Linked DNA regions of Homo sapiens. The protein of the gene in region 1 purifies or fractionates together with the protein of each later gene. This does not show direct contact. Each region holds a gene or a part of one and is shown in the gene's direction. Other genes may lie near its edges. The genes, in order: PTF1A and RBPJL.

Region 1 (3,876 bases):
GAGGCATGACTTGGAATTTGAGAGGCGTCTGAATACCCAACAGAAGCCTCTAGTGAGACAAGTGCCTGAAAAAGGAAGCGGCCCAGGAGGACGACTCCTTTCAGTCCTCTGTAGAGAGAATACGCACGATGGCTGCGCTTCTGAACTCTCCCGGGGTGGAAGCTGCAGCCTGGCTTTTAACCGGAATTGCCCAGACCTTGAAAGTGTTTCTTTGTTGCTCTTAAAAAGAGGAATTCACGTTGCATCGCAGTCTGTGATAAAGTCTGTCTTGGGGCAGAGCTGCATACGTTTTGTGTTTTTTTTTTTTTTCAGAAAAGAAAGGTCGAGAAAGAAAAAAACAAGTCATTCAGGGATGGTCCCTGTGGCCAGTCGGAAAGGTGAGAGACTCGGGCTTTGAAAACGATTCACATTCTGCCCTTTAACTTCAATGCCTTCCCTCCGGACTGCGCCGGAGCAGACGATTCAATGGACTCCTTTTGTATCCAGTTTATTGCTCAGAATCCCTAGGGTCTAGATTTGCTCTCAGAAGAAACGCGCCCCGCTGAGCTGCTCTGGGGGCTGCCCCTCCCGTCTCCCCATTCCTTTCTCCGGGCCGGGGAGGGCAGGGGAGGCAGCCACTGAGCCGATGTCGCTGGGGACCCGCACCAGGCACCACAGCCAGGCTCCAGAGCGGAGTCCCATAGGTGCGCTCCCAGCCCCCGTGTTGCGTCTGGAACGCAGTGGGAGTGGGCCCGGATCACCTTCCAATGACACCCGCATATACTCTGCAAACTGTGCAAAAGCCCTTGAAAAGTCCAGAGATGGGACAGAAGCCCCCAGCAGAACCCAGGCCGGAGCCCCGCGCACCTCGGATAAGGGGGTGGCGGAATGCACCCACCTGGTCCCTGAGGGCAGCACCCTTAGATTGCCCAGGCTGCCGCGGAGGAGGACGATCGCCGCGCGGGCTCCGCTCTCGCCGTCTGGGCCACCGGCGCGCACCCCTAGGAACTTCTCTGGCCGCGTGTAGACGCGGCGCGCGGCTGCCCCAGTCCCAGGGCGGAAGGAGCCGGCGCTGCTCAGCGCGCGCGGGTACGCAGCGGGCACCGCGGGACGCAGGTGCCCCTGGAGCCGCACGCGGGGCAGGTACAGAATCCAGTATGCAGAGGCAGAGGAGAGGGAAGAGAGCGGTGCGAGGAGCCCCGGGCCGCGCGACCCCGCCTTTTCCTCGCCCCAGGAGCTCCCAAAGGGAGCAAAACGCCCCCCACCCCCGCCCACCGCCGCGCCTCCGGGCCCCCTCGCCGCCGGCACACCGCGCTCTGATTGGCTGGCGCGATGGGTCCCTGGCACGCGCCTATGGATGTTGTTATAAGAATCCTCGCGTGCCGGCCCTCAGCTCCAGGAAGTCCGCCACAGCCCTCCCCAGCGCAGCGCGAGCGCGGGCCAGAGCGCAGCGGCCGCGGGCACTCCAGGGAGGCCCGGGGGCGGGCAGCCCGGCGGCCGCCTAGCTGCCCCCAGCCAGGGCCCCGGGAGGGAGGGGCTCGGACGGGCCTTAGAAACTCACCAAGAACTAACACGCGCAGCCCGGCAGTCCCGCTGCCCACTGCGGCGGCGAGCATGGACGCGGTGTTGCTGGAGCACTTCCCCGGGGGCCTAGACGCCTTTCCTTCTTCGTACTTCGACGAGGACGACTTCTTCACCGACCAGTCTTCACGGGACCCCCTGGAGGACGGCGATGAGCTGCTGGCGGACGAGCAGGCCGAGGTGGAGTTCCTTAGCCACCAGCTCCACGAGTACTGCTACCGCGACGGGGCGTGCCTGCTGCTGCAGCCCGCGCCCCCGGCCGCCCCGCTAGCGCTCGCCCCGCCGTCCTCGGGGGGCCTCGGTGAGCCAGACGACGGCGGCGGCGGCGGCTACTGCTGCGAGACGGGGGCGCCCCCAGGCGGCTTCCCCTACTCGCCCGGCTCGCCGCCCTCGTGCCTGGCCTACCCGTGCGCCGGGGCGGCAGTACTGTCTCCCGGGGCGCGGCTGCGCGGCCTGAGCGGAGCGGCGGCTGCGGCGGCGCGGCGCCGGCGGCGGGTGCGCTCCGAGGCGGAGCTGCAGCAGCTGCGGCAGGCGGCCAACGTGCGCGAGCGGCGGCGCATGCAGTCCATCAACGACGCCTTCGAGGGGCTGCGCTCGCACATCCCCACGCTGCCCTACGAGAAGCGCCTCTCCAAGGTGGACACGCTGCGCCTGGCCATCGGCTACATCAACTTCCTCAGCGAGCTCGTGCAGGCCGACCTGCCCTTGCGCGGCGGTGGCGCGGGCGGCTGCGGGGGGCCGGGCGGCGGCGGGCGCCTGGGCGGGGACAGCCCGGGCAGCCAGGCCCAGAAGGTCATCATCTGCCATCGGGGCACCCGTAAGTGCTTCCGCTTCCCAGCTCAGGGAGAAGGGGTCGGGCACTCGAAGGCTCCGGAGGGGCTGGGGGAGCTGACTGCCAAGCAGACAGTCGGACCGACGGATTGTCGGTGGGCACGGAAAAACTTGAATGCGAGCTCGCGTTTCTCGTTTTTTTTTTTTTTTTTATTTTTCTGCCACGTTGACCGCGGCTCTCAAGGGCGCGCGTCCCCGCCAGACTTGCAGCTCCTCGGATTCCTGGGAGGGGACGGTGGGGACTTGAAGTGTGGAGGAAGAGGGTGGTTCTAGTATAACCGGAGAGCACCCAGGAAAGGGTCCTAAAGGACCTGATGGGACCAATGGGAATGTGGTTGGATATTCACAGTCTGTTTTCTCTTCTCACCTGTCCAGGGTCCCCCTCCCCCAGCGACCCTGATTATGGCCTCCCTCCCCTAGCAGGACACTCTCTCTCATGGACTGATGAAAAACAACTCAAGGAACAAAATATTATCCGAACAGCCAAAGTCTGGACCCCAGAGGACCCCAGAAAACTCAACAGCAAATCTTCCTTCAACAACATAGAAAACGAACCACCATTTGAGTTTGTGTCCTGAGAAGTCCCAGACTCGGCTGAAGATCTGATTATGTCTCTGTGCATATTGTACATGTAAATATCTATAATGTAAATGTAATTTAAGAATCAAATTTTTCGAATGGCAATCAACTGTTTATTATTTATCTATTTATTATCCTGTTGAGTTGATGAAATAGATGATTTCTTTTTAAATATATAATTTATATAACTTATCCTGATTTTCTGAAAATATGCAATAGCCTATGATTTTCCTGAACTCTGTGTTGTTGGGAGAACTCTGGCCAGAAAACGTCCTGCTTATTTATTGCCAGATATGGTTTATTTCTAAGCGTTGTCAATAAATGCTATTTACACCTTTTCCTGAAGGTTTTTGAGTACATGATTTGATAGATACTCTTTAAAAAGAATTAACTTAGTAAAAATTAACCAAACCAGAGACTCAAAGTGTAGCTTTTTAGTAAGAAACTACATTTCAGACTTAGCCTAAAGGTGGGTAGGTTAGAGGATTAGACCTCAACTTTCTATGACAGCACTTCATCTAGGTCGCCTGCCCTACACAGCAACTTTTGTCTGTATTTTGGGCCACCTTCCAAACACCCTATGCAAATACATCCTGGAGTATTTATTGTTCCCATTTTGCAGATGGTAAAGTTAAGGCTCAGAGATGACATTTGACTTACCCAAGGTCACCCCTACGTTGTCTATTCCTGGTGTATAAAAGTGAGCGCGCGGTGCACTGTGGGAGCAGGGAGCTAGTGGGCTAAGCGAATGGGCCTTTCTGCTTCCACTGGCTGGGAAAGGGGCTACTCTTGAGCTGCCCTGTGACCAACCTCTTCGGCAGCAACAGCATCAGGTACCTGGAACTCAGGCTTACTCCTCACAAAGGAGATGGGACAGGCTACGGTGCCAAAGCCTAGAGACCACTC
Region 2 (3,809 bases), on another chromosome or scaffold:
CTCACTCTAACCCTCACCCTAATCCTAACCCTCACCCTCACCCTAACCCTCACCCTAACCCTAACCCCAATCCTAACCCTAACCCTATCCCCTCACCCTAACCCTGACCCTCACCCTCACCCTAACCCTGACCCTCACCCTCACAGTGTGCATATCCTCCGGCTCAAAGGTCTCCCTCTTCAACCGCCTGCGCTCTCAGACGGTCTCCACACGCTACCTCTCTGTGGAGGATGGGGCCTTTGTGGCCAGTGCACGACAGTGGGCTGCCTTCACGCTCCACCTGGGTAATGACATCTGCAGGCCCTGGAGCTGGGCACTTCACATGCATTAGCTTATTTAACCTCCACCACAACTCCTTAAGGAAGGTAAACTCTGCCCCATGTGATTAAGGCTCAGAAACACAAAAAGACTTGACTACAGTCCCAGTGAGCTGGTGACTGTTCCAAGCTATTCTGACTCCCTTATCCATGCCCTTTCCCCATATATCAACTAAGCTGCCTGCCCCCAACCCCTGCCCCCAGGGCAGACATTTGTGAGGATGGCCTCAAATGGCCTCTCCAGAATTAGAACCTTCAGTTGGCTCCCCTGAGTACCAAGCTTTCCCGCAGGGCCCATGTGTGATGTGAGGAAGAGCCAGAGGCAACAAGGCAGGGTTTAAGGCAGAAGCTTGGGGGCCGCTGAAAACCTTGTCCCTTGCTTTTTTTGTCCCCCAGCTGATGGGCACTCTGCCCAAGGAGACTTCCCACCGCGAGAGGGCTACGTTCGCTATGGCTCCCTGGTGCAGCTCGTCTGCACGGTCACCGGCATCACACTACCTCCCATGGTATAGGAAGGGAGGGCATGCCTGGAGGGGTCCCCTCAGATCCATGCAGAGAATGTGGCACACACGGGCAGGGCTGGAGAGTGAGGCCCCAAGGCATGGAGACACCTGTTCTCACCCAGTGTCGCGTAGGACCAGACAGAAGTCAAAGGGCAGGGGGAATCTGCTAGTGCCTGTGTGGCTATTGGAGTAGCAGACAGCCGGCTAGGAGGGCAGCCTCTGGACGCCCGGGCTCCTTGCCACCACTGTTCTTACCATCCTTCCATTGCAGATCATCCGTAAAGTAGCAAAACAGTGTGCGCTCCTTGATGTGGATGAGCCCATCTCCCAGCTGCACAAGTGTGCATTCCAGTTTCCAGGCAGTCCCCCAGGAGGGGGTGGCACCTACTTATGCCTTGCCACAGAGAAGGTGGTGCAATTTCAGGTAAGAAGCAGAGAATACCAGCACCAAGTGTCCTGGAAAGGGAGAATGCAGAGAACCACAGAATGTAAGATCATCACCCTCACCATGGTTGCTACTTCCTGAGCAGCCTCCCATGGAACATTAAAATCATAGACTCCCAGGACAGAATCATAGGATGTAGAAAAATAGTAATAAGTAATAGTATGAAGCAATATTCCTTCCCAAAGAATTTTAGAGTCATAAAATATTGGGATATAGCCAGGTGCGGTGGCTCATGCCTGTAATCCCAGCACTTTGCGAGGCTGAGGTGGGCAGAACACCTGAGGTCAGGAGTTCGAGACTAGACTGGCCAACATGGTGAAATCCCATCTCTACTAAAAATACAAAAATTAGCTGGGCATGGCAGTGGGCGCCTGTAATCTCAGCTACTCAGGAGGCTGAGGCAGGAGAATTGCTTGAACCTGAGAGGTGGAGGTTGCAGTGAGCCAGGATCACACCATTGCACTCCAGCCTGGGTGACAAGAGCAAGACTCCATCTCAAAAAAAGTAAGTAAATAAATTGGGATATAAAATTGTAGGATGTAAATAAAAATCATGATAGGTAATAGAGAGCAGAGAATTAATGAGCAAAGACTATTCGAAGCACAGATAAAGACACAGAATGTGGAAAATTATAGAATGTGGAAAATAATAATTATCGTTAAGCAGTAGTACTCCCAAAAGAATATTATCATAGAATGTTACGAGATAGAATTATAATATGTGGAAAATAGCAAGTATTATTCCTTCCCCAAGAATATTCCTTCCCAAAGAATATTAAAATTGTAGATTATTAGAGCATAGAATTGCACAATGTTAAAAAAAAAAAAATTCTGGAATCCCAAGAAAAAAGACCCTTAGAAATCAGCTATCCCAGGCCGGGCCAATGGCTCATGCCTGTAGTCACAATACTTTGGGAGGCTGAGGCAGGAGGATCACGAGGCCAGGAGTTTGAGACCAGCCTGGCCAACATGGTGAAACCCTGTCTCTACTAAAAATACAAAAAAATTATTTGGGCGTGGTGGCTGGCACCTGTAATCCCAGCTACCCGGGCGCCTGAGGCAGGAGAATCATTTGAACCCGGGAGGCGGAGGTTGCAATGAGCCAAGATCAGGCCATTGCACTCCAGCCTGGGCGACAGAGCGAGATTCAGTCTCAAAAAAAAAAAAAGGAAGAAAGGAAGGAAGGAAGGAAGAAGAGAGAAAGAGAGAGAGAGAAAGAAAAAGAAAGAAAGAAAGAAAAGAAAGAGAAAGAAAAGAAAAAGAGAAAGGGAAAGAAAGAAAAGGAAGGAAGGAAAGAAAGAAAAAGAAAGAAAGGAAAAAAGAGAGAGAAAGGGAAAGAAAAAGAAAAGGAAGGAAGGAAGGAAAATAAAGAAAAAAGAAAGAAGAAAGAAGAAAGAAGAAATCAGCTAGCTCAACAAGCTTTCTTAACGCTAAGTGAGAGAACTTAAGGGCACTGTCCAAGCTGAGGGGACAAGTGAACCCCAGAGCCTAGGATTAGTATCCAGTTCGGTCTAACGCAGAAGCCCACGCGCCATGCTGGCTCCCTACACTGGTGGCCACCATGAGAAGCTTCGGCCTCGTCCCCTTGGGTCTCCTCCCAGGCCTCTCCCTGCCCCAAGGAGGCGAACAGGGCTCTGCTTAACGACAGCTCTTGCTGGACCATCATCGGCACCGAGTCGGTGGAATTTTCCTTCAGCACCAGCCTGGCGTGTACCCTGGAGCCGGTCACTCCGGTGCCTCTCATCAGCACCCTAGAGGTGAAGCCGGGCGCTAGGGGCGTTGGGCAGGGGGACCCTGCCTGCACTGGGCAGTGGTGGTGCTAGTGAGTGGGGGGCAGCGGGTTCCCGCCCTACTTGGTTCTCTCACCTCACCTGGTCCCACCCTCCCCCAGCTGAGCGGCGGGGGCGACGTGGCCACGCTGGAGCTCCACGGAGAGAACTTCCACGCGGGGCTCAAGGTGTGGTTTGGGGACGTGGAGGCAGAAACCATGTACAGGTACGGGGTGGTGAGGCAGCCTCTCTTGGGCCCCGGGGAGCAGGGGAAGGGGGTGCACGCGTCGTCGGAGTCGCCGCAGCCCTCACCCTGGTGCTCCACCCCCAGGAGCCCGCGGTCCCTGGTGTGCGTGGTGCCGGACGTGGCGGCCTTCTGCAGCGACTGGCGCTGGCTGCGCGCTCCCATCACAATCCCCATGAGCCTGGTGCGCGCCGACGGGCTCTTCTACCCTAGTGCCTTCTCCTTCACCTACACCCCGGAATACAGCGTGCGGCCGGGTCACCCCGGCGTCCCCGAGCCCGCCACCGACGCCGACGCGCTCCTGGAGAGCATCCATCAGGAGTTCACGCGCACCAACTTCCACCTCTTCATCCAGACTTAGGCGCGCCCGGTAGCCCCGGCTGCCCACCCTGGAGGGCTGCGCCCGCGCCAGGCGCGGGGACGTGTTTCTGGGTTCTAGGCCCTGCTTCCTTGCCCCTTTGCTGCAGAAGGGCAGCTGAAGGCTCACCCTAGAAACCGGGCCTGGTGGGTCTTACCCGGCTCACTCCCTCCC

What was found.
Region 2: the proteins of PTF1A (region 1) and RBPJL purify together in Homo sapiens (affinity purification with western blotting, with the first as the bait; one study listed by BioGRID). This does not show direct contact.

What each region holds. Positions count from the first base shown.
Region 1 is NC_000010.11:23,190,938-23,194,813, forward strand, and holds PTF1A (pancreas transcription factor 1 subunit alpha), read left to right. Parts: upstream 1-1,374; 5' UTR 1,375-1,593; coding exon 1,594-2,377; intron 2,378-2,766; coding exon 2,767-2,969; 3' UTR 2,970-3,308; downstream 3,309-3,876. UniProt on the Homo sapiens protein: Transcription factor implicated in the cell fate determination in various organs. Binds to the E-box consensus sequence 5'-CANNTG-3'. Plays a role in early and late pancreas development and differentiation.
Region 2 is NC_000020.11:45,313,322-45,317,130, forward strand, and holds part of RBPJL (recombining binding protein suppressor of hairless-like protein), read left to right. Parts: intron 1-146; coding exon 147-284; intron 285-713; coding exon 714-823; intron 824-1,091; coding exon 1,092-1,244; intron 1,245-2,865; coding exon 2,866-3,021; intron 3,022-3,155; coding exon 3,156-3,259; coding exon of another isoform or gene 3,260-3,269; intron 3,270-3,364; coding exon 3,365-3,638; 3' UTR 3,639-3,809. UniProt on the Homo sapiens protein: Putative transcription factor, which cooperates with EBNA2 to activate transcription.